7 linked regions of the Homo sapiens genome follow. The protein of the gene in region 3 interacts with the protein of the main gene of each other region in a pairwise test. Each region holds a gene or a part of one and is shown on either strand. Other genes may lie near its edges. The genes, in order: PLEKHF2, PECAM1, MBIP, DIP2A, ING5, CCNC and FXR2.

Region 1 (4,115 bases), on a different chromosome or scaffold from region 3:
AGCATGTTCATTACTGGGTGTCTTCCCACTTTTGGAGAGTAAATCAGTAACACATTTATTTATATGATTCATCCATTCTGATTTCTCCGTAGCAGTGGCAGCATAAACTGCAAAAGATTTAGTTGGTGTCTTGATTAGCCATCCATTCCTTAAGTCTCCCTCATCTTTGATGGAATCAATAGTGACATTTTCCAGGGGAATAATATGTTGTTTGTTATATTTTTTCTTCTGGATGACAATATTGCCATATACAAGAATATCATTAAACAAGAAAAACTGCCTTGCTTTGGGCTTTTTCCTGCACAACTTAGTCAATACTCCTTCTCCAATAAGAACTCGTCCAGGTATAGTTAAAGGTTGACCAGCTGCTCCAAAACAGTTTTCCACTATACTTATACGTCTAGTATTTGCTTCACTGTTTGCCAAGCGATCCACCATCTTTCACTAATAGCCTTTTAAAAAAAAGAAAAAGAAATTAGCACATATAAATTATAAATTCCTATAAGTTAATTATATATAAATTAAGCTAACAAATCATTGCTTTTACACAAAGGCAAAATGTTCTAAAATTCTTTCCCTCTAAGATAATCACTAAGCACATCAAAAGGGCTAACATTTCTCAATTTTTAAAATGATGAAAAACACTTATTTATCATCTCCACGTAGCACCATACTAGTTAAGCAGGTATTTGTAAAAGTATAAACTTCCTACAGACATAATTGAATGAAAGACGATTGGATAATTAACATAACTTATCTCTGCAAAATAATAAACCCCATTCAATGAAATGTAATCTCAATGGGATTCTGAACAATAGGGAACAAAATGTTACATAAACTAAGAAAAATGACTACAATTTTCCAAGTAAGCTATTACCACTGAGCTACAGCCTTAATTCTCTCACCTGGATTACTAGAACTGTTTCCCAACATGTGTCCTGGCCTTCAATCTTGCCCCCAAATCAATCTTTGGGCAGTGATCTCTAAAACCCTAATTTGACCCCATCATTGCTCAAAATGATCCCTTAACCTATTAAATACAGGGTGTTCACGGCCTTTCATTACTTGGTTCTTGTCACTCCAACCTCACCATAAGTCAGTCTTCACCTCAAATGTCATATTCTAAGAACACTCTACTACTTGTAGTCCATTTCACTGTTGTTCCTTTTACTACTTACTACTGCAGCTAACTCATATTCATCCTTCGAGACTTAGTTTAGGTAATCGTGTCTCCTCCAGGAAGCCTCCTTTAAACTCCCATGCTAGACTAAAACCCTTCCTGTGAGCTATCCATATTCCATGTATATTCTAGCTTCACTTTTACCAAAGGACTGAAATCTGTTCCTCCAGAGACCATGCAGAACCTAAAAAGCAGAGATCATCTGATAGTTTTGTTTGAAACTGATACGGTTTGACACAGAAAAGGTACTAAAAAATGTTAATAACATTTTAACAATGTGCAAAACACCCTATTAATCTAAACATTTAATCTCTAAGTCCAATATTGACTTCACTCAAGTCCCAGAGTTGTATCCTATTTCAAACCTACTAAACTAATACTACTATACTATAACCAAGTCATATTAAAGAACAACAAGCCTTGAGAAGAAGACCATTTAAAGTTTAAAGACTAACAGCATAGTATGTAAGTTCCAGTATTCAGCTCAAAAACTGACACTATAGCCCTTCTTGGCCTTCATTATAAAGGACACTAGAATTCTGGTTATTTCTGAATTCTGTCTCCCTGCAAATCTTGGGTCCTTATAAAGCCCTCTTGTCCTCCACAAAAGTAGGATGTAGCAGGCCTAAAAGTTGTTCCCAAGAATTAATAGGATAATGCATGGTTCCAAACTGGAAAGGTTTCTAATTAGGACTAATATGCCAGCCAATTAAAAGCCTACTATCCTATGCACAAGTACATCACAGAAAAGGAAATAAAAACGGCTAATAAACAGGAAAAGAGGTTTCAATCTCTATCATAATTAAAGAAATTATATTAAACATTAGTATATTTTTCACTTAGATTAATAAAAATTTTTAAATTTACTAAGATTCAGTACTCATAAAGGTATAGGGAAATAGGTACCCTTGTACACTACAGAGAATATGTGTATTCACCAATCTAATTAAATAAATTTCACTCACGTGCATAGAGATATATACAAGGATAATCAGCACAGCATTGTTTATAACAGGAAAACAATTGGAAAAGCTCCAAATAGCCATCAAGAGGAACTGATTGAAAAAGTTATGACACACCCTTAATCATATATCTTGAGAATAAGACAGATCTAAAACCAGTGACAAGGGAAATGCTCAAGATCTTTAGGTGGGGAAAAGAGATGAACTTCCTGATCTCATTTTTATTTCAAATAAATACCACATTTCATCACATCTAAGGTGCTATAGATTTTAAGACATATTTATGTGCAACTCATAAAGAGAAAAATGTTGCCAATTAAACCACAGCATACCGTTGATTATAAGACCAATTTCAAATACATATAGTAAAAAATGTTTATCTTTAGACTCAATGGAATACATATTTCAAAAGCATAATCATAGACATCTGTATCTGTAAGCACACACACAACATAAAGTTAAAAAATATATACTATACTATCAACAATGGTAATTTATCTCTGGAAAGTATAATTATGGATCATTTTTTCATACTTTACATTATATTCAAGCATTCCACAAGTATTTGTCAGGCACTTAGGATCTAGGTGCAGGAAAAGTAAAAATAAACACCACAGGCGATCATACTTGAGTATGTGACAACAGATAAAAATTTTAAAAAATAATAAATTAAACAATACAGGCAAGGTCCCTGCTCTTCAGGGTTTACATTCTAGTTGGAGAGAAGGAAAGAGAAAACAAAATTGAAATCTAGTACTAATCAATGCTATGATTTTTTTTTTAAAGTGATTTTTAAAAGAAACTGAGAGCTATTCAGACTACATGGTCAGGAAAGGCCTTTCTACAATGTTGTCATTTCAGCTGTACTAGATGGACAGACATAAGAAGGGGTAAGGATAGGGGAGAATATTCCAGACAAAAGGAGTAACTGCAAAGGCCCTAAAACAGGAAAAGACATTGGCACTTTAAAAAAAAAACTGAAAGGATCTATTTCTCTCCACCTGAATCAACTACTGAGTCCACCCATTTGAACATATCGTTATTAACTCATATACAACACAAACAGATTTCCTATTATTGCTACTATGAGAATTAATACTATCATAAATTTGTACTGTGCTTTTCATATTATTTTCTGATTTGAACTGTTTGAAATGCCTATGAAGTTACTAGAGAAGTTTTTATTGTCCCCCAAAGAAGCATCTAATAATATTAGCTGAACTGTGAGCTGATGAAGAAATTAAGGCACAAAGATATTTAATAATGTAAAAGCAAAACTTAACCTGGAATGAACTCTACTCATAGGGAGTCCAACCAATGTGCTGAGCACTTTGCACTTATTACTGTATTTCCTCCTCACAGCAACCTTATGATACATGCACTATTAGCTCCATTTTATGGATGAGTAAACAGCCAAAGAGGGGTTAAATAACTTGCCCAAGGCTGTCACAGCAGAACAAGCCTCAAATCTGATTTCTCTGTGATGTTACAGTATGTTATGGTACACTAATTGTTCCTAAGAACTCCACTGAATCTACAAGAACTCTAAGGAAGCTATTAACTAACCTCTGGACCTTCATTGCAAACCCTAAAAATACTGAAGATAAGGGAATACTACCTTGAACAAATCACCTGAAAGGATGGATATGTCATGATTTACCCAGCTGGTGTCTTGATAATCTTTCATTGTCCAAATGTTTCAATATATTAAGTCTAAATCTTTGTTCATAAATCTTTCTCCCTGTTTAATAATGATGCAACTTAAGCAAGGTTTGGGGCATTATTAATTAGTATTTGGCTGCAGCAAAGCAAATAGCTTTCAAAGTTTGACAATGACCAACATAAACACATTTTATATTGCAAGGTTACAAACACTCGTATAATTATTTCAACAATGAATGATGCATTCTTTTATCTTCATTTATTTTAATGATTCTGGCAGCCCACTTGATTGATTGGTGGGTTGTGACATA
Region 2 (3,888 bases), on a different chromosome or scaffold from region 3:
TTGGCTCACTGCAAGCTCCGCCTCCCGGGTTCACGCCATTCTCCTGCCTCAGCCTCCCGAGTGGCTGGGACTACAGGCACACGCCACCACGCCCGGCTAATTTTTGTATTTTTCAGTAGAGACAAGGTTTCACTATGTTGGCCAGGCTGGTCTTGAACTCCTGACCTCATGATCCACCCGCCTCGGCCTCCCAAAGTGTTGGGATTACAGGCGTGAGCCACTGCGCCCGCCCGGCAAATTCACCATTTTCCAGTGTATACTTAACCATTTTAAAGTGTATAATTCAGTTGCATTAGGTCCGTTCACATTGCTGTGCAACCACCACCACTATCCATCTCCAGAGCTTTTTCTTTTTAAGTGAAAGCAAGTTTATTAGAGAAGTAAAGAAACAAAAGAATGGCTACTCCATAGGCAGAGCAGCCACTGAAACACTGTACCCATTAAACACTAACTCCCCATTGCCCCTCCAGCAACCCCTAGCAACCACTGTCTACTTTCTGTCTCTATGAATTTGACTATTTGAGGTACATCACATAAGTGGAATCATATATTTGTCCTTTCATGTCTGCCTTATTTCATTTAGCATAACGTTTTCAAGGTTTTCCTGTGTTGAAAATATATCAGAATTTCATTCTCTTTTTAAGGTAGAATCATATCATTTTAAAACATTTCAGTTGGACCATCTAAGTTCAGTCCTTCATTTTCAAAATTAAAAAACAGGCCTCAAACGGGTACATCTCACGTTAGCTAGAGACAGAACTGGAGCTAGAAGTCAGATCTCTTACAAAGTTGCCTTTCTTCTTCTGTGGGTAAGTGGGGCACCCTTGGGACGCTGTGCTGGGCGTACATGGGTGCTTGATGAAGTTACTTGGTGGACTGATGTGATTGATGTCCAACATGTATGCAGGGACAGAGGCTATGGTCCCTACAGAGCAGGCATGGAGAGAAGGAGAAATACATACGGGCAGGAGCCAGGAGAGGGAGGGTGTAGTGAGCAGAGACCGCGCCACTGCACTCCAGCCTGAGTGACAGAGTGAGAATCCATCTAAAAAAAATTGCTTGCTAAAGAAGTGGTCTCCTGAGGTCTTAAGACGTTCCTGACAATGTCTTGAGTGGGTGGGAGAGAGGCTGCAGTCATTGTGCTGTGGAATTTCAGAGGTGAGAACCACACCTAACCAAAATTACTTTCCCTGTTTGCCTCAGTGACACAGCTGCAGGAACCCTGGTGGGTGTTGTATTAAGTAAATTTGACCTTTATTCTTTGCAGATCTGTGAAATGTTGTCTTCTGAGGGGCCACGTGTATCTGTAGTGCTGAGGACTCCTTGGGCCTCTGAAGTCACAGAGAGAACCCTGCAGGGTGGGGGACCAGTGTGTGACAGCCCTGCTTTGCATTTTCTTTGAGAAGTGCTGTCATTTTGCATTTCTCTCCACCAGGGCAATCTTCAATCTTGAGAGGTGTGATCATAACTTGCCTTGTTTCTTGTCGCTACAGAGAACGGAAGGCTCCCTTGATGGAACTTAGACAGCAAGGCCAGATGCACATCCCTGGAAGGACATCCATGTTCCGAGAAGAACAGATAATCCCTGTATTTCAAGACCTCTGTGCACTTATTTATGAACCTGCCCTGCTCCCACAGAACACAGCAATTCCTCAGGCTAAGCTGCCGGTTCTTAAATCCATCCTGCTAAGTTAATGTTGGGTAGAAAGAGATACAGAGGGGCTGTTGAATTTCCCACATACCCTCCTTCCACCAAGTTGGAACATCCTTGGAAATTGGAAGAGCACAAGAGGAGATCCAGGGCAAGGCCATTGGGATATTCTGAAACTTGAATATTTTGTTTTGTGCAGAGATAAAGACCTTTTCCATGCACCCTCATACACAGAAACCAATTTTCTTTTTTATACTCAATCATTTCTAGCGCATGGCCTGGTTAGAGGCTGGTTTTTTCTCTTTTCCTTTGGTCCTTCAAAGGCTTGTAGTTTTGGCTAGTCCTTGTTCTTTGGAAATACACAGTGCTGACCAGACAGCCTCCCCCTGTCCCCTCTATGACCTCGCCCTCCACAAATGGGAAAACCAGACTACTTGGGAGCACCGCCTGTGAAATACCAACCTGAAGACACCGTTCATTCAGGCAACGCACAAAACAGAAAATGAAGGTGGAACAAGCACAGATGTTCTTCAACTGTTTTTGTCTACACTCTTTCTCTTTTCCTCTACCATGCTGAAGGCTGAAAGACAGGAAGATGGTGCCATCAGCAAATATTATTCTTAATTGAAAACTTGAAATGTGTATGTTTCTTACTAATTTTTAAAAATGTATTCCTTGCCAGGGCAGGCAAGGTGGCTCACGCCTGTAATCCCAGCACTTCAGGAGGCTGAGGTGGGCGGATCACCTGAGGTCAGGAGTTTGAGACCAGCCTGATGAAACCCTGTCTCTACTAAAAATACAAGAATTAGCCGGGCGTGGTGGCGCATGCCTGTAGTATCAGCTACTCAAGAGGCTGAGGTGAGATTATCGCTTGAACCCAGGAAACGGAGGTTGTAGTGAGCGGAGATCGCGCCACTGCACTCCAGCCTGAGTGACAGAGTGAGAATCCATCTCAAAAAAAACAAAAAACAAAATTGCTTGCTAAAGAAGTGGTCTCCTGAGGTCTTAAGACATTCCTGACAGTGTCTTGAGTGGGTGGGAGAGAGGCTGCTGTCATTGCGCTGTGGAATTTCACAGATGAGAACCACGCCTAGCCAAAATCACTTTTCCTGTTTGCCTCAGTGACACAGCTGCAGGGACCCTCGTGGATGTTGTATTAAATAAATTTGACCTTTGCTCTTTGCAGATCTGTGAAATGTTGTCTTCTGAGGGGCCACATGCATCTATAGTGCTGAGGACTCCTTGGGCCTCTGAAGTCACAGAGAGAACCGAGCAGGTCTATGTTTTTGTTTTGTTGTTTTGAGACGGAGATTCGCTCTTGTTGCCCGGGCTGGACTGCAGCGGCGCAACCTCTGCTCACTGCAACCTCCGCCTCCTGGGTTCAAGCAGTTCTCCTGTCTCAGCCTCCCGAGTAGCTGGGATTACAGGCACATGTCACCACGCCTGGCTAATTTTTGTATTTTTAGTAGAGATGGGGTTTCACCACGTTGGCCAGGCTGATCTCGAATGCCTGACCTTTGGTGATCTGCCCGCCTTGTCCTCATGTGTGCTCCACAGGCCTTTGGGTTGGGATTGCAGGCGTGAGCCACCATGCCCAGCCTAGACTCTTTTGACAATATGATGAAAGCTGTTGGTTCCTTTCCCCAACACACACACACCGAGTTGTATCACGAAAATGTCATACAATTTCCAGGTTTTCTGAGTGGTGGGCTCAGATTGAGGTCAAAGGATCAGACGACCTCTAACGACCTTCATGTCTCTGTTGATGATCTGGGGACAGCCAGATCCCCTGTGTCCAGGGAGTTCCTTAGTCCCTTGCCACCACCAGAGAAGGGCAATTGCCACGGGAGCTGCAAAGACCCTATTCCTACTCCTGGTGCCTTACTTATGCAGCACGACTGAATTTTTTGTTTTGTTTTGTTTTGTTGAGACAGGGGCTTGCTCTGTTGCCCAGGCTGGAGTGCAGTGGCACAACAATGGCTCACCGCAGCCTCGAACCCCTGGGCTCAAGCGATCCTCCCATCTCAGCTTCCTGGGTAGCTGGGACCAGAGGCGTGAGCCGCCATAGCTGGCTAATTTTTAATTTTTTTTTTGCAGAGATGAGGTTTCACCATGGTGCCCAGGCTGGTCTCGAACTTCTGGGCTCAAGTGATCCTCCCTCCTTGGCCTCGCAAAGTGCTGGGATTGCAGGCATGAGCCACCGCCCCCGGCCTGTGGAGCACACATGAGTTTAAAAT
Region 3 (4,415 bases):
AACCATATTTTGTGTTTTTGTCCTTTTTTGCAAATGGTGTTTCTTCTTTTTGGAATGCTTTGCTCTGGAAAATTCCTACTAATCCTTCAAGGCCTCAAATGTCACTTCATTAGGATGCCATCATCCCTTGACCTACCCTGAGAGAGTCAAACACTAACTTTCTGTCCCTCCGTACATACATCTGCAAAGGTGAAATAAGCAACTGTCCATTCAATAAACATTTGAGCACTTGCTTTGTGCCAGGCACTGTAATAGGTACAAAGAAATGAATATGACAGACATAGTTGCACTCTCACGGACTATCTAGCAGGAGACAGACATTAAACAAACAGAACCATGATAACTGCTTTAAAGGGGAGCAGGGAATACCAGGTGCTATATAAGATTATACAAAAGGTGAATCTGCACTGGTCTAGGATTAGGAAGAAAAAGCATGGACAGAAGGGCATGAGTATAAAGATCCTAAAGCAGCACAACGAGTGGGAGATGGGAAGCCCAGAGGTGTAGCTGGAACTACAGATGTGGACAATACTATTTAAAATTACAAACCCCCTTCAATCCCAATCTCCACATTTTTAGCTGGGAAGAAACAAGATCAAATTTGAGCTTTAGAAAAAGCAATCTGGCCACAGGGTAGAGATGATCTAGAGGAGTCCAGTGGCAAAGAAACCAGTAAATATCCTTCCATCAGTCCAAGCCAGAGATCACAGTGGCTTCAACTCTAGTAGTAGCAGTAGAGATAAGACAGAAGTGGGCAGATTTGAGAGATATTTATTTAGAAAACAGAATCAACAGACATGGTGACTAAATGGAGAGGGAGACTCAGTCTCTGCACCCAGTGAGGACTTGGGTTTGAGCAGGGTGCAGTAGTGACACATGATTGTAGTCCCACTGACACAGGAGGTTGAAGCAGGAGCATTACTTGAGCCTAGGAGTTCAAGTACAACCTGGGCAAGACTGGACTATCTCTTTTTTCTTTTTTTTTTAGAGTTGTCACTTAGTATCTTAGGCATGTTTGCTTGGGCTCTTTAAACTTCAATTTATTTATCTGTACAGTGATAACACCACCACCATCTCAAAAGGGTACTATGACCTTTTAAGTGAATTGACATACACATAACACTTCCTGAGTGACTGGCACTTACTGTTCAAGAAATGTTAGGAGCTAAATGAAAATTTGGTGACTAAATGAACTGCAATTTTTTAACCATTTGCAAAGGTTCATTATGAGGTGCCACTTAGCACTTTGCTTACCTGTCTGTAACCGCAAGTGGGCCTCAATATTTTGTAGTCGTTCTTCTACAGCCTGATTACCACAGTCTCGAAGCATGCTGTTAGGTTTATGACCTGACCCTGGAATTCCTTCAGGTCTAGTCTGTGGTCCGTATGTATTCACAACTCTAGAAACTAAATTAAGAAACTTTTGAGCCTATATACATTTGTATTTCAAAAATCAGAAATTCTTATTCCTTAACAGCACTTTATATTTTTTTCATAAAGACCATCTAACCACAAGTATGAAGGACGGCAAGATGTTTTTGTTTTAAAATAAAATTTAGATGGGAAAGTTATTTCTATTCCATTTTGCTAATAATCTAGACTTCTGTCAGTGACTCAGATGTCATGTGGTGGTTACTTACCTTTTACGTGACTTTTAAATCCGGGGTAAGGGGTAAAAATCGCATCAGTTCTTGCACAACTATTTTCTAAGGAGAATTTAGATAAATATAAGTTTAAATATATTCTTCCCTTCAAATGTATGAGATTTTAATAAACTTTCAATAATTCATATTAACATTTTACTCATAATAATTTTAATAAATAATAGTAACAATAAATTACTATCACACATAGGATAGAATTTAGTGACCTTCTTTACCTGTCAAAATTTATCATAATATCTAATATTCTTACCTAATGTTCAGATTTATATACAGAAAAGCCATCAACATTAAGTGGCACAAATTGATACAATTTTGAAAACCAATGTCACTATTTGGGCCACTGGAGAAAATAATCTACCATAGAGTATTTAAATTCTACTTCATCGTAGAAATAAAACTCATCATTTTTACTAGAATTCTTTTAATTCAGCATTTTTTATTTTAATGACCAAATTAGTGAACATCCAACAAAAAGAATTATTTAACATTTTTATTTCAGAACTCCACACAAAGATGACCTCAAAACCTCAAGTACACATACATTTCCACTCTACCTAGATTTCCAGTGCTCATTTTAAAAACCCTTCATCACAAAAGTCATCTACTTCTTCTTATCCCACCACTTTTCAAAAAAGTTTCATTTTAGTAAAGGTCTATTGTGAAAATTTGTCCCTATTTTTTTCCAAGCTGAAAAGTAGTTTCTTTCAAATTAAGTATCAATGCATAAATTACAAAAGGGGAAAATTGGAAAGATGTTAACATATAATACAACTAATTAACATAATTGTTATATATTAACATACGATACTACATAGTAATAATATATACTTATGTTTGAAATAATGTTTAAAGGCCACACATTGGCAGTAAATCTCCTGTAAAATTCCCCTGAATATTTTGTAAAAAATGGCTGGTAAATGAGATTCTTTAAAAAAAATTATTTTTTCCCCCCTATGAAATTTGATTTTTAAAAATTCCACTGCTTATAGTTAGGTTAAATTTGTAGGTATTAAAAGGAACACACTAACATATTAAAATACATTTGTATTTTTTTCAGTTGAACTTTCCTTAGTAGTTCTGTTGATAAATCAAATAGTATGCATAAAATTCCAAATCCACTTAGCTTTTATATCTAGAGACTAAATAGACATCTTTCCTCCTTTTTTTTTTTTTTGGAGGCACCTCAAAATATGCTTAAAGGGCCATCCTTTCTCCATTCTCTTCCTACCATTTCATGGGGCTAAGGGTTAAAAAAAGAAGCTATCATCCATTCCAGAACTATATTCCAAACATATAGATTAACTGACCATCAGTGAGAAATTCAGCATGGTGTGAGTGTATGACTGCTAGTCACTCTCCACAGCAATTCTTGCTAGCACTGTTTTGAGCCAGCAAAGAATTGAATGGGCCAAGGAATCCTGCTGAGCATTTCAATTCTCGTCAATTTCTATCCCCTGGTGGTTTATAATAATAGAGTTAGCAGGGAGAACAGAGGAATAACATTAGTGACACATGTGCTTGCTCTCTCAACAAACCCTTTCTCATAGTCGCTTGTAGTTGGTTGTAGTACCTGAGATTTTGCCATTGTTGCACCTGTTCTGAAAAGCTAACAGGAAAATATACCAAATTTAGAGATGCACATGTGTAATGTTAATAGTAGCACACAGCTAAATTCAGGACCCAATACCAGCCTATATTATTTCATTAAGAGAATCAGTGTACCAATGTGATATGAGTCATTTCTAGGTTCATCTGACAATTCTATGTTCATAATAATTAGCCATGAGATATTAGAGGCAACAAGAAACATGTTCATTCCAATTATGAACTCTTCTCCATAATTTTTCCTAAGAACTACTTGTTCTGATTATTACTATGGTGCCTGAGTATAATCTATGGCACTGCATTGCAATATTTTGTATTCTGCAGCATACTTGCAGATTTGTAAATGTACTATAGCATCAAGTAGAGAGGTAAAGGTGAATCAGATGAAAAACAGCAAATGTATGCACTATGGCAGAAAGGAAAAAAGCAAGACACCATGGTCTTCATGATAAATTGGTTGTATCGTGACACAGGACATTTCAAACAGCTCAGGAGTAGTGAGAAAACTGCTCCCTCTGGAGGAATATTAACTTTACTAAGTTCACTTACGTATTAACATCATGATTTCACAGTACATGTATAGGTTTGAAATTCATAGAGCTCAGTTCCTTTTACTAGTGAGATAGATCAACCTTCTCACTCGTACCTCACCTTCATTTCCTAAAGGAACTTTAAAATAATCTTCACCTGTGATAAACACTTTTTAATGTTAGCATTTACTTTGTGTAACCAAAATGAAAACCAGTTTGCAATATAGTCTATTATTAAGCAGAAGGAAACTCTACTGTCTTAATTACTAACTAAATCCATGAAATAAATTGAATTGTGTTCTAAAAGCTATTCATTTAAAAAATAAATAAAAGATTAGAGCAACTATAAAAATTGTGCTTAAAACCCTATGAAAATTAATTTCCAGGTAGTTACCTTGATTACAATCAATAACATTGCAAAATTCCCTGACGTTGTTTTCATTGATTTCAGCTTGCTTTCTTTCAATAAATGCAGATATTCGTCTGTCAATCTACAAACAACAAGTTTTAACAGTGTAAACATAAGATTTTTTAAAATAATACCCTCTCGCCCCCGCCAAAAAACCTTCTTACTTCTGCTTTTCCAGCCTTTATCTGAACTACTTCTGGATCAAAA
Region 4 (4,415 bases), on a different chromosome or scaffold from region 3:
AACTACCAAACATCATATTTATTTCCTTAAAAGACGGTTGGCTCAAATCCCCATATAACCTAAATAATACCCAAGAAATGGTACACTAAAAATCTTTGAAACAAAATTTCAGGGTAATGAATTTTTAAAATTTTTTTCTTTTTTTTTTTTTTGAGGCAGAGTCTTGCTCTGTCGCCCAGGCTGGAGTGCAATGGCACAATCTCGGCTCACTGCAACCTCTGCCTCCCGGGTTCAAGCAATTCTCCTGCCTCAGCCTCCTGAGTATCTGGGATTAGAGGCACCTGCCACCATGCCCAGCTAATTTTTTGTATTTTTAGTAGAGACGGGGTTTCACCACGTTGGCCAGGATGGTCTCCATCTCTTGATCTTGTGATCCACCCGCCTCGGCCTCCCGAAGTGCTGGGATTACAGGCGTGAGCCACCACGCCCCGCCTGAAAAATTTTAATTGAGCTATTGACTCCCAGCAAGGTAAGAGATTCTTCAAAGCCACCAGTTCCTGTAAGCTAGACAGTCATAAATCAGAAAGTTTAGACATAACCATAATGCATCAGAAAACGCATTACTCTCAGGCTAATCACATCTTAGCATTTATTGGTATTTAACACAAATCTTAAGAAGCAAAATTGTTGCTTTGTGCTTTGCATAAGAAGGACCTGTCAGTTTAAATCTGCATCTGACATCCTTTCTGTCCACTCCTCCTGATTTCTAGGGGCTGAAGCAAACAAGATTTCAGAGGACCTACCTTCACTCCCGCTAATATCCCAGTGGTTGACACGCTGAAGTCCAAGTATGCGAGGACATCGGGGGAGGGGGGCCTGAAAACGCTTGCTATCTTCTTTTTTGGGATGTCATCTGTTAAACAGGAGACACCAGCAACATTAGTGTTCCCACATGTATTCTGAACGCTCTGGGCTTTCACAGGCAAGAGGCGACACATGATTTGTCCTTGGGAGTCCTGCAGAGAGTGAGCTCAGACGGGAGTGGGGCCGTGACGATGCAGGCTGTGCGTGCTCAGGAAAGCGTATTTCATTCTTCATGGAAACGCTACCCGGTCCCACCAAGACCACACTGAGCCTGTGGGGATGGGGGACGAGGCAGGGCGAAGAGGGGAGGCATCACGTCACTGACCAGTAGGAAAGATTAGAGGACTAGGGATTTGCCAAAAGTCACAGAGCCTATGGCAAAGCCCAGATGAGCCGAGTCCCGACCACAGCAAGAATAGCTGTGGACGGGCTCTGGGTTCTGCGTGCTTCATCAAGTTCTCGTGGCCCCATGAGCCAGACACCACTGCCTCCCTGGGTGCAACTGGACACAGGCTCAGCAGGGCAGGCACCGCTCCCCTTGAGGCAAGCCCGTGAGGCTTTGGGGCCCTGGCCAGCTGTTTGGCTCTGAGCCTGCCCTCCCCTACACCAGCTGCCCTGGCCCAGCCCCATCCAGCCCAGGCTGAGACAGGTCCACGGCAGAGGGGAGCCAGGGGGGTTTCTGACCCTCACCCTGTTGGCCCTCAGCATTTCATGGGGCATGACAGCATTCACCAATGATGGGGACAGGGATGCTGGAGTGGCGGCATGCGGTGGGAGCTGTGTCCTCAAAGCGTTTGCAGAAAGCCTCAGAGAGCTGCCAGCCCCCATGCCAGTAGGAGGCGGGTGAGAGGGGCAAGGCTGTGCTCCACACCACTTGGGACTGGGTGCGGCTGCTGTGGGCTGAGTGGAGCGTGGGTTTACACATGGGACAGGGACCCCTACTCCCCACCAGGGCCCGGGGCACCCCCTGCTGTCAGCCAGGCTCCTGCCAGGACTGCTCTTGCCTCACGTGTGTTTTTGGACGGCAGCCAGGCCACACCACACCTACAACAAAGAAAGGAAAAGGGACTGGTCCTGGGCAGTGCGAGGACACGCACCTGTGTCTAGGATGGTGGGCCAGGTCCTGATGTCCACGGCAGCAGCAGCCTCCTTGGACCTGAGCAGCCGTGTGACAGCCTGCGTGGTGAGGACGCATGCAGACTTGCTGACCTGCATGGCGAGGGGCCAAGGGTGGGTGGGCGGGGCCTCTCAAGCTGCCCAGAAAAGGGGGCAGCGGAGGGCAGCCTTGCAGCCTCCCACTCACAGACTCTGACCCGCGGGCCAGGTAGGCGCACCTCCACGATCATCTTGACGGTGGGCAGTGTGGTGCCGAGGTTCTGAGGGTGCGGGGGCCGCACGGTGACAGGCACGCAGCCACAGTACAAGCAGCCATAGAACGCGGCAATGAGGTCCACCCCTGTGGAGACAAGGACTGGCTGTGAGGAGGCCGGCCGCAAGAGGCTCCCACCAGCCTCTGTTCACTGTTCCTGCGAGAGAGGAGGGGAGGTGGTGCTGGGGGGGCATGGGTGACTCCTGGGTTTCCACAGGGGTAGCTGAGCTGAGGAGGCAGACACATGCAGAGAGGAGGGGCTGAGCTTAGTTTTGGAAGATGCTTCGGGGAGGGAGTGTCTAGGGGGCTGCTTAGGATAGGAGGCTGCTTACAAAGAGCTGCAGGTGGACAGCCCCACAGTGAGCCCACCTGGTGGGTAGACCAGAGCCACATGGTCCCCAACACTCAGTCTTCCCTTCTCCATCAGAGCCGCGGCCACTCTCTCAGCCCTTTTGTGCAGCTGGACACAGGTTGCAGTGCTTGTGACGGTGCCCTAGGAAAGCGATCTTTGAGCTCATCTGTATGCTGGTGCGTGCAGGTGGGCTGTTCGCAGATCTGCGTGCACACCACCTGCACGCCACTGCACACGACACCTTGTGATTAGCGTCCATGATAATGACAATGTGTCAGTCCTAGACGTACGGCTGGTGTCTTTTTTTTGGTAGAGATGGGGTTTCACCATGTTGGCCAGGCTGGTCTCGAACTCCTGACCTCAAGTGATCTGCCCGCCTCAGCCTCTCAAAGTGCTGGGATTACAGGCATAAGCCACCGCACATGGTCCACGACTGGTGTCTTTTCTCACCATCTGTACTCTCTCACTAGCAGTGAAGGGACAGGCATGCAAGTATCTCCTGTGTGGTCCCAGCTAAGAGGGAGAGATGCGGGCACTCCATTCACCCAGGGCAGAGCCAGAAACACGTGGGTAAAGAAGACCTTTCTGGCCTTTTCAATAAAATATTCCATACGACACCATTATAAATACATAATAAGCGATAAGCAAACATCCCTGAATTGTACTACTTTCCATGCCCACAGGTCACCTGCACTGAGCCTGGGCGTGTGTCATCTGCAACCGGCTTTCTCAGAGGCATCTGTGTGTCTCCTCTAGGACTGACTACACCAGCTCCTTCATTCACCCTGTCTCTCTGCTGAGGGGCACTGGGGCTATGTGACCAGTTCAAGGCAAACAGAAATACCTGGTAACCCTACCTCTCTGCTCAGGACACTCATCCTCCCTGATCCCCTGCCAGGCCTCGCAGCTTTTTTAGTCCTTCTTAAGAAGATAAAAAGTGCAATTCAGTCTAATAAATATAAAACTCCAGAGCAGACCAGTGTAACATCAAAACTCCCTGTTTCTCGATTGGTGGCTTCTACTGACAGAAGGCAGTGGAAGAGAGAGACCAGTGGACGCACTTATGTGCTGTGTCCAGGCACAAGGGCTGGGCAGATCCTGAGATTCCAAATCCCGGAAGCTTTGCCAGTCCATATGAGTCAGGGCCCCATCAGGACAGAACCTGAGATCTGGACTGGGACTCAAAGCCCGCAAGGTCTGGGATCCCACTGCATCCTTAGGGAAAACCCAGCGACCCCCAGCCTTATCTGCATCCCCTACCTGGGACCACCTGGCCCCCACCACACTGGCCTCCTTTCCTGCCTTGAGCCACTGGGCATCATTCTTCATAGCCCCTGCTACCCAGTTCCATTCAAAGCCCCCTCCCCAGCACTCCAGGTTACATCACTCCACTGTATTGATACTGAGGTTCACACCATAAGCTGATTTTACCTTGGTCAATGATAAATCACTGGCTGGTTTGTAGGCTTTAGAACTCAATCAATCATAAAATAAATGTTTACTGGGCATGGTTCTAGATGCTTCCAATACACCAGAAAAACAAAGTCTCTCTCCTACGGAACTTGTTTTCTAGCAGGAAAGACTGATTTTAAGCCTCCTGAGAGTAGGGGTCCTTTTAATCTTATTACTGTGCACTGTGCACATTGTAGGCATCATTAAGTATTTTTTTAATTCGAATGAGCAGCACCAAGAGCTAGAAGAGCATATTCTAAGCCACAGTGACCTACTCTTTACGACACCAAAGCTTAAGAGTTCTTACAGCTTGTATGGTGCGTGGGACAGGAAGCCTTGCAGGGTTTTAAGTTATTTAACTTTCTGTGTTTCCGCATTTCGCATTCCTGCCCACAACCTGAATATGAAGATTACAGCTTCTCCTTCTTGACATCCTGA
Region 5 (4,415 bases), on a different chromosome or scaffold from region 3:
GGTAAGGTCCACGCAGGCAAAGTGAAACCACTCAATTGGACACTGCAAAGTAAAGGGAGAAACCGCAGTCAACACGCCTCATGTTCTGTATGCAAAACACAAGAAATGCCAACATCCGCCAGCCCTGCCCCACACAAGACCCCGCCCCATGGCGCGAATCCTGCAGGCGACACTCACGTCTGGATTGTCACAGCCAATCATCTCCCCATAGGAGACCTGGTGGCACAGGCAGTACGTGGGTTCGTTTGGGTCCACGGGCATGTCCAGCACATCAGAGGGGTGCACGGACAGGATGGTGTCAGTGAACTCAGACCTGCAGGGGACAGGGCACAGGCACCACTGAAGGCCATGGTGGGAAGTGAGGCGGCACGGACACCACGGGCCCTTCTGTCTCTGACTTAAGGCCCCCTCACCCCAAAACTGTGAAGACAATCATTCCAAGGGGGAAATTGGTACCGTGCTCTGAGCGACACATAATGAATAAGCTTGCTTCCATTTTTCCCATTGTCCTTTAGAAATGAATGCGACTCCAGGGCCAGCCACTGCAGTCATGCACTAACTGAATACACACCTTGTGGACGTTTTCTTCCTGGAGCACACATTTTCAAAACCTCAATAACCCCTCTGAACACGCAATGTTCTAAGAAGGCGCAGCAAGAAAATCATTAAGTATACGAACAGATTGTCAGCTGATGCTAGAAAGAACAGTTACCCACAAAAATCCAGGAACAGCAGCAGCTGGCAGCAGAGGGGTGGAGACCTCGCGCCCACCTTCGGGCCCAGGCAGGGGCATGGGGGCACAGAGGGCCCCCAGGAGGCCGTGAAGCGCAGCACTCACCCACAGCACCGGGGTTCTGGTCCCACTCTGGGGACGAGTCCACTCTCATCTCGGTCCCTCCTCCCAGACAGGACTCCCCCGGGGACCTCTGGACTCAACCCACTTCTGGGCCATCCCTCCAAAGACCCCGGCCCCTTTGGAAACAAGCACACGTCACCTCTGCCAGCAGACGGCTGACACCTGAGAGAAGCCTGCCAGCCTCCCACTCCAGACTGACAGGTGTCAGAGCAGCCCGCACAGTCAACAGCTCTCCCGTAACTGTGACCTCCTCCCAAGAGAACAGCCATGCGTCCTGCGCCCGGGCCCTCCACGCACCTACTCAGGCACCTCTGCCCCAATACTGACTCAACCAGCAGCTCCCCACACACTCCCTGGACCGCCCACCACCCACCCAGCTGTCCACCTGGCACAGGGCCCCTTCCGACCACACACCATCCTTGTCACTCCTTCATCCCCATCAGCTCCCACGTGGGTTTCTACACAGCAGCCTGGCAGGTGTTCCACCCCGTCTATGCCTCCCTCCAAGCCTGCCACCTGTAGCACCATGGCCGTCCCACCAGGACCACAGACCTCAGGTGGAGACTTTCCTGTTTGAAAGGGATGCACTTAGGGGGAAATTTACGCTTTTATATTTCAGTATTTTTCAAATAAACTTACAAGCTGCAGGTACTATAGACAGTGTATTCCCATTAGTACAGAAAGAAAAAGTATCTTCCCTATCCCACCCTCCAACCCACGAATATCTAGTTGGTATGTAAACACAGCAGGTTAGCAGGAGGAACGTGGCCGTGAGAAAAACAGTCACGATCAGGGAAAGCCAAGGAGCAGAAGTCTGGGTCCCAGAGGGAATCAACACTCAGCTTTTCCTTGGATACCTGTCTAAAGCTTTTCTACGCCTTTGCAATTGCCTGTACACATACACACACACTCGGGCTCAGCATGCACCCGGCCTCCCCGCTGCCCTCTGGCACAGGGGCGCCCACCTAAGTCTGTCCTTTGCAGGTAATCTGCTCTTCTGCTCTTTCTCTCTGTCTGGGAATAGACAGGGGTTTCTCTTTAGAGCTGAAATCCATCAGCGTCACAAGTCCAGGTCCAGGTGCTGCCGACACTGCTTTCAAGCAACAGTCTCAAGTAGTCTTCGGGTCTCTCCTCTGACAGCAGCACGCAAGGGTCTACGTCTCAGCCTCCTGCCGATTCCGGGATGCCACCTGTGGCTTCACCTCCAAGGGGCTCCTGCGGTCTCCTCGAGTCACCTCTCACCCGCGGAGAGCAGGGCAGCACCCTCTGCTGCCAACCGTCCCCGAAACGCTGACGCCCTCCTCTTCTGCGCCGAGTCCAATTCTGTCCACAAAGCCCGACCTGACATCTTGAGCTGCCACTTGACCTGTGTCTCAGCATCACCAGGTTCGAGGGCGCTGGCCAGATTTGATGGCTGTGGGAGAGGGCCGGGGGCCTGAGGGGACCGCCCAGCAAGGGCACCCCAGAAGCTGAGGCCACCGTGCAGGCCTCACTGGCCTCTCAGTCTCGCCTGAGGGAGCGCCATGGCGTGTGGCCAGGGAGTGCTGCTATCAGCCCTGAGGGAGGCAACCAGGAGGCCATGGGGAGCCCTGTCCCTTGCACAGGCCAGGGTGACCCCAACTGTCAGCGGCTGCTGACTCCCTTCAGCACCACTGCCACAAGAGGCACCCTCTGTGCTAACTCCCCAGGGTGTGGCAGGCACCCCTCGCCAGACGGTGCCAGCGAGCCCTTCCGCGCCCGGCCCCGATGGCTTCCCAGCACTCCACGTGGCTCCTAGCAGGGGGCTGGCTGCCTGTCCAAGCCCCGGGATTCCAGGTGCTACAGGTGACACTGCCCTTCATCCACACACACAGGTTCTGCCTCGCCAGAGCAAGGCCACAGGGCAGCAACAGTGCAGGGGGCAGCCTCAGGTCACGGGATCTCAGACGAGACACGGAGCATCTGTGCAGTCTAGGAACACTGCATTCCAGGAAGAGCCCCGGGCACGTGGGGAACAGGCCTGAAGAGGGCAGTCCACAGGGACAGGATGGTGCGTGCGCCTGGGTCCCCAGCAGGGAACAGGACCTGCCTTGAGGCAGAGCGGCCTGGCACCACAGCGTGACCACGAGGGGCGTGAATACCCACTGTGCTGATGGGTCAGGGACGCGCACCACAGAACTCCAGAGCCCAGGGGCAGGCGGGCTCCTGCACACACCCAGGATGATGCCCTTGGAGGCACCCGAGTGCACACTCCCGCCCCGGCAGGCCAGGCTTTGGGTCCAACCGACTGGTCCTCAGGATGACCCGTCTGCCCACCTGCACCATCCTCCTGTCCCTCTGGAAGGGGCCTCCTTGGCGCCTTGGACGTCAGAGCCCAGCTTCAGAGCTGGCCTTACCAGCCTGTCTCGACGTCTTGCAATGGGACAGGAGCAGCACTGCCACTTGGGGGCACAGAGAAGAAAGAGATTCACACACAAGCTAGATCCAGAGCCGCAGGGCCCCGCAACTGTCGCCATCGGTGATCACCCTTCTCATCTGTCACTACTGGGACCTGCACGGCAGGCAGCGCTGAGCTCCCAGGCTCCGCATTGCTACTAAACAGTGCTGGTCAGCGCACTGTCAGGACAGGAAAAGCCATGAGGCCACAGTGGATCTTCCTGTGTTTGCAGAGGTGCTGGCTGTTCCTGAGGTCTCTGAAGCTGGGCAGAGCCCTCAGGGAGGAAGCCCCGACCCCAACAGGGAGCTGGAGTCTCCTTCACCCCCACGAGGACCCCCAGTGCCTGCATTCCTTATGCCTAGCATACCCTTGAGAAACAGCACTGGGTGAGGAAGAGACCAGGAGGAGTCCCACTTTCACGCAGAAAAGGCACGGTCGGGACAGGGCCTTCAGGTTCCGAGCAGGAAGGAGCAGGAAGACTCAGAACGCTGTTGCCACTGAGTTAGAAAACACAAAACCCAGCAAGTCACAAAAACCACATTCTCAAAGATGTCGGGGAGCTGTGGAGCAACAAGAGCTAGATGACCTGCAGCCAGAGTGGGGGGTGTTGGGGGGTTGGGGGCGGCGTCCGCCTGCCTCATGCACTGAGTGAGGGCTGGGCTGGCCACTGGGCCACGCTGAGCCCACACAGCCACACATGGCGGCCGCGTCCCCACCGACATTTATAGTCCAGAGGCTGCACAGAGCAACTAAAAGCAGAGGGAAAATCCCTGCAACCTCGGAGTTCTCGAGCAAGGGGTCTGCTCGGGCACCGCTGGTCTCCTCCCCCGCACTTCTACCAACTGTGGAAGCCGCTGGGGCAGGAGGCGAGAGAGGAAACCTCAAGGTCCTCAAGGGGCCTCGGTGGAGCTGAAGCTGAGACCCTGCCCCGCCCCAGGCCCCCAGCCCTATTGGCCTGGACTAAAACAGAACGAACACCTCCTGGGGAGAACAGAAATTTCCCTCTCCACGCTTCCTTTATATCTAAAGTCAGACAGCTAATAAATCATGAGACATGTACCCTCAGCAGGGAAATAGGACTGATTATGTTTTTTTAAAAGCTGGTTACCAAGGAATGGTGGCACATGCCTGTGATCCCGGCTA
Region 6 (4,415 bases), on a different chromosome or scaffold from region 3:
CTCTAAAACTGTGAGAAAATACGCTTCTGTTGTTTAAGCCACCTGTTCTGTGGCATTTTGTTATGGCAGCCTCAGCAAAGTAACATACTAAGCAAGGCACTGTTCTAAAAGCTTATATTAACTCATTTGGTCCTCATAACAACCCAACAACACAGGAACGGGTTTGCACATAGATATTAATATCTACCCATAAGAATGACATAATAGTCATTAGAAAACAATAAAATACAATAAAATTCGGAAACAGAATTTTTTCTTTACTCTTACAAGATTAAAAGCCACTGAGTTGATGTTTTTGGATTGATAATTACTATCCATTTTAACATTAAAAGTAATATCTTTATATCTTTTTAAAAAAAAACCTTTTAGCTTGATTTTTTTGCCAGATACACTAGATATAAAGTTATCCTCAGGAAATTTAATAAAGCCAACCAATCTCATATGTCTCATAAACTAAAAAAAAAAAAATCTATGTACTCTGGAGCTTTCTTTAGAATTACATCCTTAAAGCAGATATACTTTTTGCACTTACATACAGAAGTAGCAGCAGCAATCAATCTTGTATTTGAAACTACTCCAAATTCCTAAAGAAAGAAAAGCAGGTACATGTTAACCCAATGAATCTAAGGGTATCTGAACTCTATTCAAAACAGGATTTCCTTGCTCCTGTTTACAATCTGTTCACCTTCTAACTACTTGAGGTGTGAAGTACTTACACTCCTAAATGTACAGGCTGATTACCCCTTATCTGACATGCTTAGGATCAGAGATTTTTCTGATTTAGGAATATTTTGCATTACACTGGTTGAGCATCCCTAATCTAAAAATCTGAAATGCAAAATGTTCCAATGAGCATTCCTTTGAATGTCATGTTGGCCCTCAAAACGTTTCAAATTTTGGAGCATTTAGGATTTTCAGATTACGGATATTCTGCCTGTATTACCTCTCCCCCAAATTGCTACAACTTAAGACATATTTTAAAATAATTTTATAATTTAATAACAATAAAAGGTACCAAATTAGAAACCAAGCCTTAAGGTTACAGTGTCAGTTTTTCCATTTAAATTAGTTTCCAAGAAGATTGTTTACATTCTATACTTAATTGCAAGAATATTAAGTATGTTTCCTATTCAATTCAACCTGTATTAACAGATACTTCATGCCATTCTATGGTAAAACAGTTGAATTTGTGAATAAGATAAACCTTAATTAATCACCAAAAGAACTAAAAAAAAAAAAAAACCATATAAATAGTTACTATCCTTTTTAGAACAGGGAGACAGGAATTACGTAAGACTTCCAAAGTCAGTTCCCATTTCCTCTTTCAACTGAACAACCACCATTGTGAAAATACTAAAATTTATTATGATCCACCTTATATATACTGTTTCATTTATTGCCTCGTAAGATTTCTAAAGCCTTCACTTCATTTTAAAATAAAAAAATCAAGAGTTGGTTTCTTATCCAACAAAAGGAGCTAAACTAAAAATCTATTTAAATACCTTCAGCCTACATCCTTATCCTGTGTAGGGGAAATGTATGTGTACTAATATATTTGTTTTACATTTAAACCTCCAACTATAATAACTGAAAAGAAAAAGTAAAAGCCTGAGACATGTTCTTAAATGAGCTTTCCATACAATTTCCATAAAACTAGAGAAAATACAGAAAGATTTGGTCACAGAGATAAAAAAAAAATAATAATAATGCTACGACCAAATCTGAAAGACTACATTCTCTTTCTCAGGAATAATTCTTTTTTTTTTTTTTTTTGAGATGCAATCTTGCTCTGTCACCCAGGCTGGAGTACAGTGGCATAGTCTTGGCTCACTGCAACCTCCACCTCATGGGTTCAAGCAATTCTCATGCTTCGGCCTCCCTAGTAGCTGGGATTACAGGCATCTGCCACCACATCCGGCTAATTTTTGTATTTTTAGTAGAGACGGGGTTTTGCCATGTTGGTTAGGCTGGTCTCAAACTCCTGACCTCAGGTGATCCACCCGCCTGAGCCTCCCAAAGTGCTGGGATTACAGGTGTGAGCCACTACACCCGGCCTAGGAATAATTCTTTATCCAAAACTCAAAGGGAAAACTTTCATTCAGTAAATCACATCACAGAGTTCTACTCAGTAAATCACATAACAATATTTAACAAGTAAGATAGATTAAAATCCTCAAATTAATCTACAAGATTAAATGTTTATAAAGATTTTTTGTCTTGGTCCTCCATACTGCCTGTGCTTAAGAGACTTTAAATTATTACATGGTAATATTTAAATAAAATCAAATATTACATAGAATTATTAGAATTAGAAAACTCAATCCATAATAAGGACCTTAACTGATTCTGCCTTCTTAAACTACCACTCACAATTAGAAAACATAAACTTCTAGAAAGCTTGTCTTAATATTATTTCTAACAGAGTCAATTGTCATTATTTAGGTAACAGTTGGGAAAGATGTCATGGATAACCTTAAATCATGGCTAAAACAAAACTAAATCAAAGTGGGTGCCAAAAGGAATGTAAACTTACTAGGTAAAAATCACATTCAATATTCAAGAATACAACTCTAAGAATAGAACTCTAAGACATTATCCAAAAATAGAAACATAATGCAAAGATTTCACACCACCAAAGACTACATTATTTATGAAAAACAGCCAATATCTGCTATTATTTTCTGGACTTTAGCTGAGCTCTTTCAAAAATACTACAAAGGTAAAACAGTTGAACAGAAATTCAGTCTCTGCCGCAAGTTCCTATCTATCTTCTCTCCCTTACCTAATTTCTCTACGCTCACAACCTCAACTTTTACTTGTTAGACTCTATATAGCTATAGCTTCCCCTAATCCTTGCCTTCCTTCTGGCTTGGTAGGCAGCCAATCATCAGGATGATGGGAGGGAAGACAGGAGAAGATAAGCATATGGGTGAGAAGCATAAGGGACATTCTCAGGTTATGGTAGGCAAGCTGTGGTACTTACTGAATACTACTCAGTGCCAAACAATAGATGTCTCAAAGGCAGCAGAGGAAAGTAGTTAAGAACACAGGATTGGTAACGAGACTCCCATGGTTCAAACACGGGCTCTCACACTTACTAGCTATATCATCTTAAGCAAGTTCTTCATCTCTGTCTCAGTTTCCTCATTTATAAAATGGGAATACTACTACTATGTATTCCAGTTTGTTACAAAGATTAAGTCAGTTGGTACACAGTAAGTGCTGTATGTGTCTGTTAAGTGAATATATAAGGATATGTATATATTTCTTTGATTTTGTACAATTTTAGTATTTTGCATAAATTACCATTTATTAATTTTACATAGGCCATGTGAAAACTGGGGCAGATTAACCAACATACATTGACTACACTTTGATGAAGAACAGAAAATTGTTTTATACCTCTACTTTGGATGCCAAAAACACACATGTAGGAGCCATTAATACAGGATCTATACTTTTCAGAGAATACCTAAAATATGATAAAACAAAGTTAAATATCATTCATACAGAAAACACACTGGGAAAAAAATCAAGATAACTCTATGGTAGACACATGATTCATTTACACTGTGCTAAGGTTCATCAACATTAGATAAGAGTTCAAATAAATAAAATAAAAACAATCCTACCTGGCATAGAATCTCTTGAAATATACCGTAGCAGTGGCAATAACTTGTTGTCTTAATTTAAGATGTTCACCTAATGCTTGGATAACTAAAAGGCAAATAATGAAATTTTAAATGTATCTTCTGGTATCATTATAATATTAACATTGAACAGTAACTTCCATGTGGTTAAATCATAATTATGTTCATTTTTAACAAAGGAAAAAACCTACACATGCTCTATGTGAGTCACAGTGGTCTAATTCTAGGATTTGCAAATGTGTTAAGAAATATATAGGTATGCATAAACAACAACAAAACAACAACAAAACAGAAATTGCCCCACAGGAAAAAATTATTCATCCATTAAGGAAGTTGAATAAATATTTCCCCTCTATCTTCTAAATATTTTTAATGCTTTTCATAGTATCTTTATAATAAATATAAAAAGAAAATATTAGACACCTATGAAACTTGTTAATACTACCACTTTTTTTGTTGTTTTGAGACAGAGTCTCGTTCTGTCGCCCAGGCTGGAATGCAGTAGCACGATCTTGGCTCACTGTAATCTCCACCTCCCAGGTTCAAGTGATTCTTGTGCCTCACCACGCCCAGCTAATTTTTGTATTTTTAGTAGAGAGGGAATTTCACCATGTTGGCCAGGCTCATCTCAAATTCCTGGCCTCAAGTGATCTGCCCACCTCTGCCTCCCAAAGTGCTAAGATTACAGGTGTGAGCCACCACACTTAGCTTTATACAGCTCACCAAAATAAATAAATAATACATAAAAATCCATAACGAATCCTC
Region 7 (4,415 bases), on a different chromosome or scaffold from region 3:
AGCCTCCCAAAGCTGGAATTAAAGATGTGAGCCACTGTGCCCAGCCTATGATCCATTTTGAATTAAATTTTATATATAAGGTGAGGTATTGATCAATGTTTTTTAAATTTTTAAATTCTTATTTATTTTTTTGAGACAGAGTTTCGCTCTTGTTGCCCACGCTGGAGTGCAATGGTGCAACCTTGGCTCACCGCAACCTCCGCCTCCCAGGTTCAAGCAATTCTGCCTCAGCCTCCCAAGTAGCTGGGATTACAGGCATGGGCCACGACCCTGGCTAATTCTGTATTTTTAAGAGAGACAGGGTTTCTCCATGTTCGTCAGACTGGTCTCAAACTCCCGACCTCTGGTGATCCACCCGCCTCAGCCTCCCAAAGTGCTGGGATTACAGGTATGAACCATCGCACCAGGCCACTTTTTTTTATTTTTAATATATTTTTAAATTAAAATTTTTTTTTAATAGAGACAGGGTTTCGCTATGTTGCCCAGGCTGGTCTTGAACTCCTGGACTCAAGCAATGCACCCGCCTTAGCCTCCAAGAATGTTGGAATTACAGGTGTGACCACTGTGCCCAGCCCATTTTTTACCTAAAGATATCTTGTTCCAGCACTGTCTGTTGAAGACTATCCTTTCTGGCCAGGGGCGGTAGCACACGCCTGTAATCCCAACACTGGGAGGCCGAGGCTGGCAGATCAGCTGAGGCCATGAGTTCGAGACTAGTCTGGCCAATATGGCAAAATCCCATTGCTACTAAAAAAAAAAAAAAATAATAATAATAATAATATATAAATTAGCCAGGCGTGGTGGCACATGGCTGTAACCTCAGTTATTCAGGGTGGCTGAGGCATGAAAATCACTTGAAGCCAGGAGTTAGAGACTGCAGTCAGTCAAGATCATGCCATCGCACTGCAGCCTGGACAACAGGGCAAACTCTGCCTCAAAAAAAAAAAAAGAAGAAAAGAAGAAAAGAAAAGACAAGACTATCCTTTCTTAGCTGAATTGAACTGCCTTTTCATTTCTATCGAAAATCAGGAAGGGCAATTTAATGTATAATGACAGAAGATTGGTAGTTGATGGAGGACTTTTGGGAGTGACAGAAATGTTCATTCCTTTGATTGCAGTGATGGACTCAGTTACATACATGTCAAAACTTAACAAATGGCACACTTTAAATATGTCTACTTTGTTGTATGTCAATTTCAGCTCAATAAAGATGTTTTTTAAAAAAATTAGAGAGCCCATACAACACAGGGAAACCTCATCTCTGCAAAAAATTTATAAATTAGCAGGGTATGATGGCTTGTGCCTGTAGTCCCAGCTATTTAGGAGGCTAAGGTGGGAGGATCACTTGAGCCAGGGAGGTCGAGGCTGTGATGAGCTGTGATTGCACCACTGCACTCCATAGCTTGGGCAACACAGCAAGACCGTGACTCAAAAAACAAAATAAATAAACAAAAATAAAAGAATTAGAGGTTTCAAAAGGCTAATACACAAGAACTATTCATGAGCTTTGCTGCTAGGGACAAAGGCTAAGCTTAGGAGAGAAAACACCAAAAATGCCCTTGGCAAATGCACAGCTCCCACCTCATAGAACTAATCAATCACAAACACTTACCAGATTGCTATTTCCTTACGATGGGAAAATCTAAGCCTGCATTTCACTCTTCATACAAGCCACCTTTCTCGTCTTTAGGGATATGTCTTGCTATAGAGGCTGCAGTCAGTCAAGATCATTCTTGACTGAATGTTCTTTCTTAGAGCCTTACTACTGCCCAAGGCTTTAATTACTACTGGTACTTCCTGGCCTCTTTTTTACCCATGCTTTTTCTTTCTCTGACATTCTCTTCTCCAGAAATGTTTTTTCTACTCTTCATTCAGATTTTTTTCCTTTTTCAAAAAGAACCTGAGTTATGAGCATGTTCATTCAGGTTTAATGCCAACTCCTACTGTTCTCCATTCAAGTCTTCTGAGGCACTTTTACTTCTACTTGCCTGGGTCTCTCTTCCCTTTTGGGTTCTTCCCTTAGCTCCTGCTCAAGTGTCCTCCCCACTCCCACAACCACTAATATTTTATCCATTCCCTCTTCTTTTCCCTGTAATCCCAACACTTGGAGGCCGAGGTCGGTAGATCAGCTGAGGCCAGGAGTTCGAGACCAGTCTGGCCAATATGGCAAAACCCCATTGCTACTATATATATATGTATACATATACATATATATACACATACATATATATGTATATATACATGTATATGTATATATATACATGTATATGTATACATATATATACATGTATATGTATACATATATATATACATGTATATGTATACATATATATATACATGTATATGTATACATGTATGTATATATATACACACACACACACACACATATATATAAATTAGCCAGGCGTGGTGGCACATGGCTGTAACCTCAGCTATTCAGGGTGGCTGAGATATGAGAATCACTTGAAGCCAGGAGGCAGAGGCTGCAGGGTCGTCTGGATTTCTAGAATTATTCCAACCAGCCTCTTCCGCTGACTTTATCCAGTTCTTTACCCAAAATGTCTACTCCAAGCCTTAGAAGTAGTTTATCAAGGCAGGAGTTACACTGACAGAAAGAAGTGGAAAAGAGACAGAGATGAGAATCACTAATTTACTGCTTTTGTGGAGAGATTTCTACTCCTAGATATATTCAAATCGGCTATGCCTATGGTGTAATCCAATTCTCCTCCACCATGTTAGGCTTGGCCCCAGGGTGAGCAGCAATATTACCCTAGTTTTCCCAGCTACCATGACTTCCAAGGCAGAAATGCAAAGCTCAGAATGGAGTAATCTCTCACATTACTCAGCAGTTCAACCAAATCTCACTCAACCCTTATATTTCCAGGGTCTTTTTCCTTCAATTAGTCTCCAAAACTAGCTCTGTCCCCAACTTCATATTCCAATCCTGTCTCTGCTCCTAAATTCCACCCATTCATCCCATACTAGTTTTTTTCTCCAAGGGTATCTGTGGTGGAAGTGAGCCCCAAGTTCTGCTCAGTCTACGCTCATTGTGAAAATAAGCAGGTGAAGGCAAGAGCAGGTGGGTGGAATGTATTAGGGAGCCACCTAGATCCAGAGGATAACTTGATTCAGTGGCCATAGCATCACCTGGCTTTGGCTTCTGGAGCCTGGCACCAAGCCAGCAGAGGAAGAGAGAGCCCCAGGTTCCTAGGTACTTTGGTTTCCTCAAATTAGAAGATATAAAATTGGTCCCCACCTTCACCGTCTTCTAGTTCTAGACTCCCAAAGCAAAGGAGGGGGTTCTAGGAGAAGAGCAGGAACAGTCTGAGTAAAAACCAAGTACTGAAGCTGAGGATGCCATGTTGATTAAGAAAGGAATGGGGATTAGGATATCCAGATGAGGTTTGGAGTAGGAAGATTGCGCCCTGGACGGTGAATACTTCATTTGGGAGAGTACAACTTAAAGAATAAAATACATTAGGCCATTTTGTACGTCTTAAGCCATTTTGTACGTCTTAAGCATGATGACTGCGGTTTCAAGCTCACGGTGAGGTATGCCTCCCTCAACCCTTGTTACGGATGCCAGTCTGACATGAAAAAAAAAAGGACGGAAAAAAAGAGTAAATTCTGACAAACTTAATTTTCAGATAGCTACAAAATAACTTAGATCCCAGATCTAATATTTTATCCTTTAAGAAAACTGACGGGAGGGCGTGGTGGCTCACGCCTGTAATCCCAGCACCTTGGGAGGCCAAGGCGGGCGAATCTCTTGAAGTCAGGAGTCAGAAACCAGCCTGGCCAACATAGCGAAACCCCGTCTCTACTGAAAATACAAAAATTAGCCAGGCATGGTGTTGCACACCTGTAATCCCAGCTACTCGGGAGGCTGAGGCACAAGAATCACTTGAACCTGGGAGGCGGAGGCTGCAGTGAGACGACATCACGCCACTGTACTCCAGCCTGGATGACAGAGGGAGACCCTGTCTCAAATAAAAAAAAAAGGAAAAGAAAGAAAAGAAAACTGACAACAGGGCCCAATTCTGAGAGAGGAGAAAGGGACCTTCCCAAATGTACAATTCCAGAAGCAGTGTAAATACTCCCTGACCCATCCCAAGTTTGCTGAGTCATGAATATTAAATCAGCAGCAAGGTCAAAACGGATAAGTATCTGTAGGGTACTGAGAGTGGAAGATTAGCCTGAATTTAGGGATTTGTGGTTTTTAACTCAGGAACAGGGCAGAAAATGCTAACCTGCCCAGATCCACATTACCACATTACCTGGCTTTCAGCTCAACCCCAAACTCTACTCTCTGAATCACAGTATCCTGGTCCCCATCTATTCAAGTCTATCACTGCCACAGCACACAGGAGAAAGGGAAAAGATTCAGAGAGACTTTCTGCTGGACACTTATATGT

What was found.
Region 1: the proteins of MBIP (region 3) and PLEKHF2 interact in binary tests that used the Homo sapiens proteins (3 or more experiments, as listed by UniProt).
Region 2: the proteins of MBIP (region 3) and PECAM1 interact in binary tests that used the Homo sapiens proteins (3 or more experiments, as listed by UniProt).
Region 4: the proteins of MBIP (region 3) and DIP2A interact in binary tests that used the Homo sapiens proteins (3 or more experiments, as listed by UniProt).
Region 5: the proteins of MBIP (region 3) and ING5 interact in binary tests that used the Homo sapiens proteins (3 or more experiments, as listed by UniProt).
Region 6: the proteins of MBIP (region 3) and CCNC interact in binary tests that used the Homo sapiens proteins (3 or more experiments, as listed by UniProt).
Region 7: the proteins of MBIP (region 3) and FXR2 interact in binary tests that used the Homo sapiens proteins (3 or more experiments, as listed by UniProt).

The regions. Positions count from the first base shown.
Region 1 is NC_000008.11:95,150,368-95,154,482, reverse strand, and holds part of PLEKHF2 (pleckstrin homology domain-containing family F member 2), read right to left. Parts: intron 453-4,115; 5' UTR 439-452; coding exon 1-438. UniProt on the Homo sapiens protein: May play a role in early endosome fusion upstream of RAB5, hence regulating receptor trafficking and fluid-phase transport. Enhances cellular sensitivity to TNF-induced apoptosis.
Region 2 is NC_000017.11:64,321,451-64,325,338, reverse strand, and holds part of PECAM1 (platelet endothelial cell adhesion molecule precursor), read left to right. Parts: intron 1-1,493; coding exon 1,494-1,523; 3' UTR 1,524-3,888. UniProt on the Homo sapiens protein: Cell adhesion molecule which is required for leukocyte transendothelial migration (TEM) under most inflammatory conditions.
Region 3 is NC_000014.9:36,310,319-36,314,733, forward strand, and holds part of MBIP (MAP3K12-binding inhibitory protein 1), read right to left. Parts: coding exon 4,373-4,415; intron 4,291-4,372; coding exon 4,194-4,290; intron 1,707-4,193; coding exon 1,641-1,706; intron 1,408-1,640; coding exon 1,255-1,407; intron 1-1,254. UniProt on the Homo sapiens protein: Inhibits the MAP3K12 activity to induce the activation of the JNK/SAPK pathway. Component of the ATAC complex, a complex with histone acetyltransferase activity on histones H3 and H4.
Region 4 is NC_000021.9:46,552,420-46,556,834, reverse strand, and holds part of DIP2A (disco-interacting protein 2 homolog A), read right to left. Parts: intron 2,667-4,415; coding exon 2,543-2,666; intron 2,261-2,542; coding exon 2,139-2,260; intron 2,014-2,138; coding exon 1,902-2,013; intron 854-1,901; coding exon 744-853; intron 433-743; coding exon of another isoform or gene 406-432; exon of another isoform or gene 1-405. UniProt on the Homo sapiens protein: Catalyzes the de novo synthesis of acetyl-CoA in vitro. Promotes acetylation of CTTN, possibly by providing the acetyl donor, ensuring correct dendritic spine morphology and synaptic transmission.
Region 5 is NC_000002.12:241,718,837-241,723,251, reverse strand, and holds part of ING5 (inhibitor of growth protein 5), read right to left. Parts: intron 3,770-4,415; coding exon of another isoform or gene 3,631-3,769; exon of another isoform or gene 3,277-3,630; coding exon of another isoform or gene 3,130-3,276; exon of another isoform or gene 1,445-3,129; intron 314-1,444; coding exon 178-313; intron 43-177; coding exon 1-42. UniProt on the Homo sapiens protein: Component of the HBO1 complex, which specifically mediates acetylation of histone H3 at 'Lys-14' (H3K14ac) and, to a lower extent, acetylation of histone H4. Component of the MOZ/MORF complex which has a histone H3 acetyltransferase activity.
Region 6 is NC_000006.12:99,557,965-99,562,379, forward strand, and holds part of CCNC (cyclin-C), read right to left. Parts: intron 3,718-4,415; coding exon 3,633-3,717; intron 3,473-3,632; coding exon 3,403-3,472; intron 585-3,402; coding exon 533-584; intron 1-532. UniProt on the Homo sapiens protein: Component of the Mediator complex, a coactivator involved in regulated gene transcription of nearly all RNA polymerase II-dependent genes.
Region 7 is NC_000017.11:7,607,681-7,612,095, forward strand, and holds part of FXR2 (RNA-binding protein FXR2), read right to left. Parts: intron 3,594-4,415; exon of another isoform or gene 3,501-3,593; intron 1-3,500. UniProt on the Homo sapiens protein: mRNA-binding protein that acts as a regulator of mRNAs translation and/or stability, and which is required for adult hippocampal neurogenesis. Specifically binds to AU-rich elements (AREs) in the 3'-UTR of target mRNAs.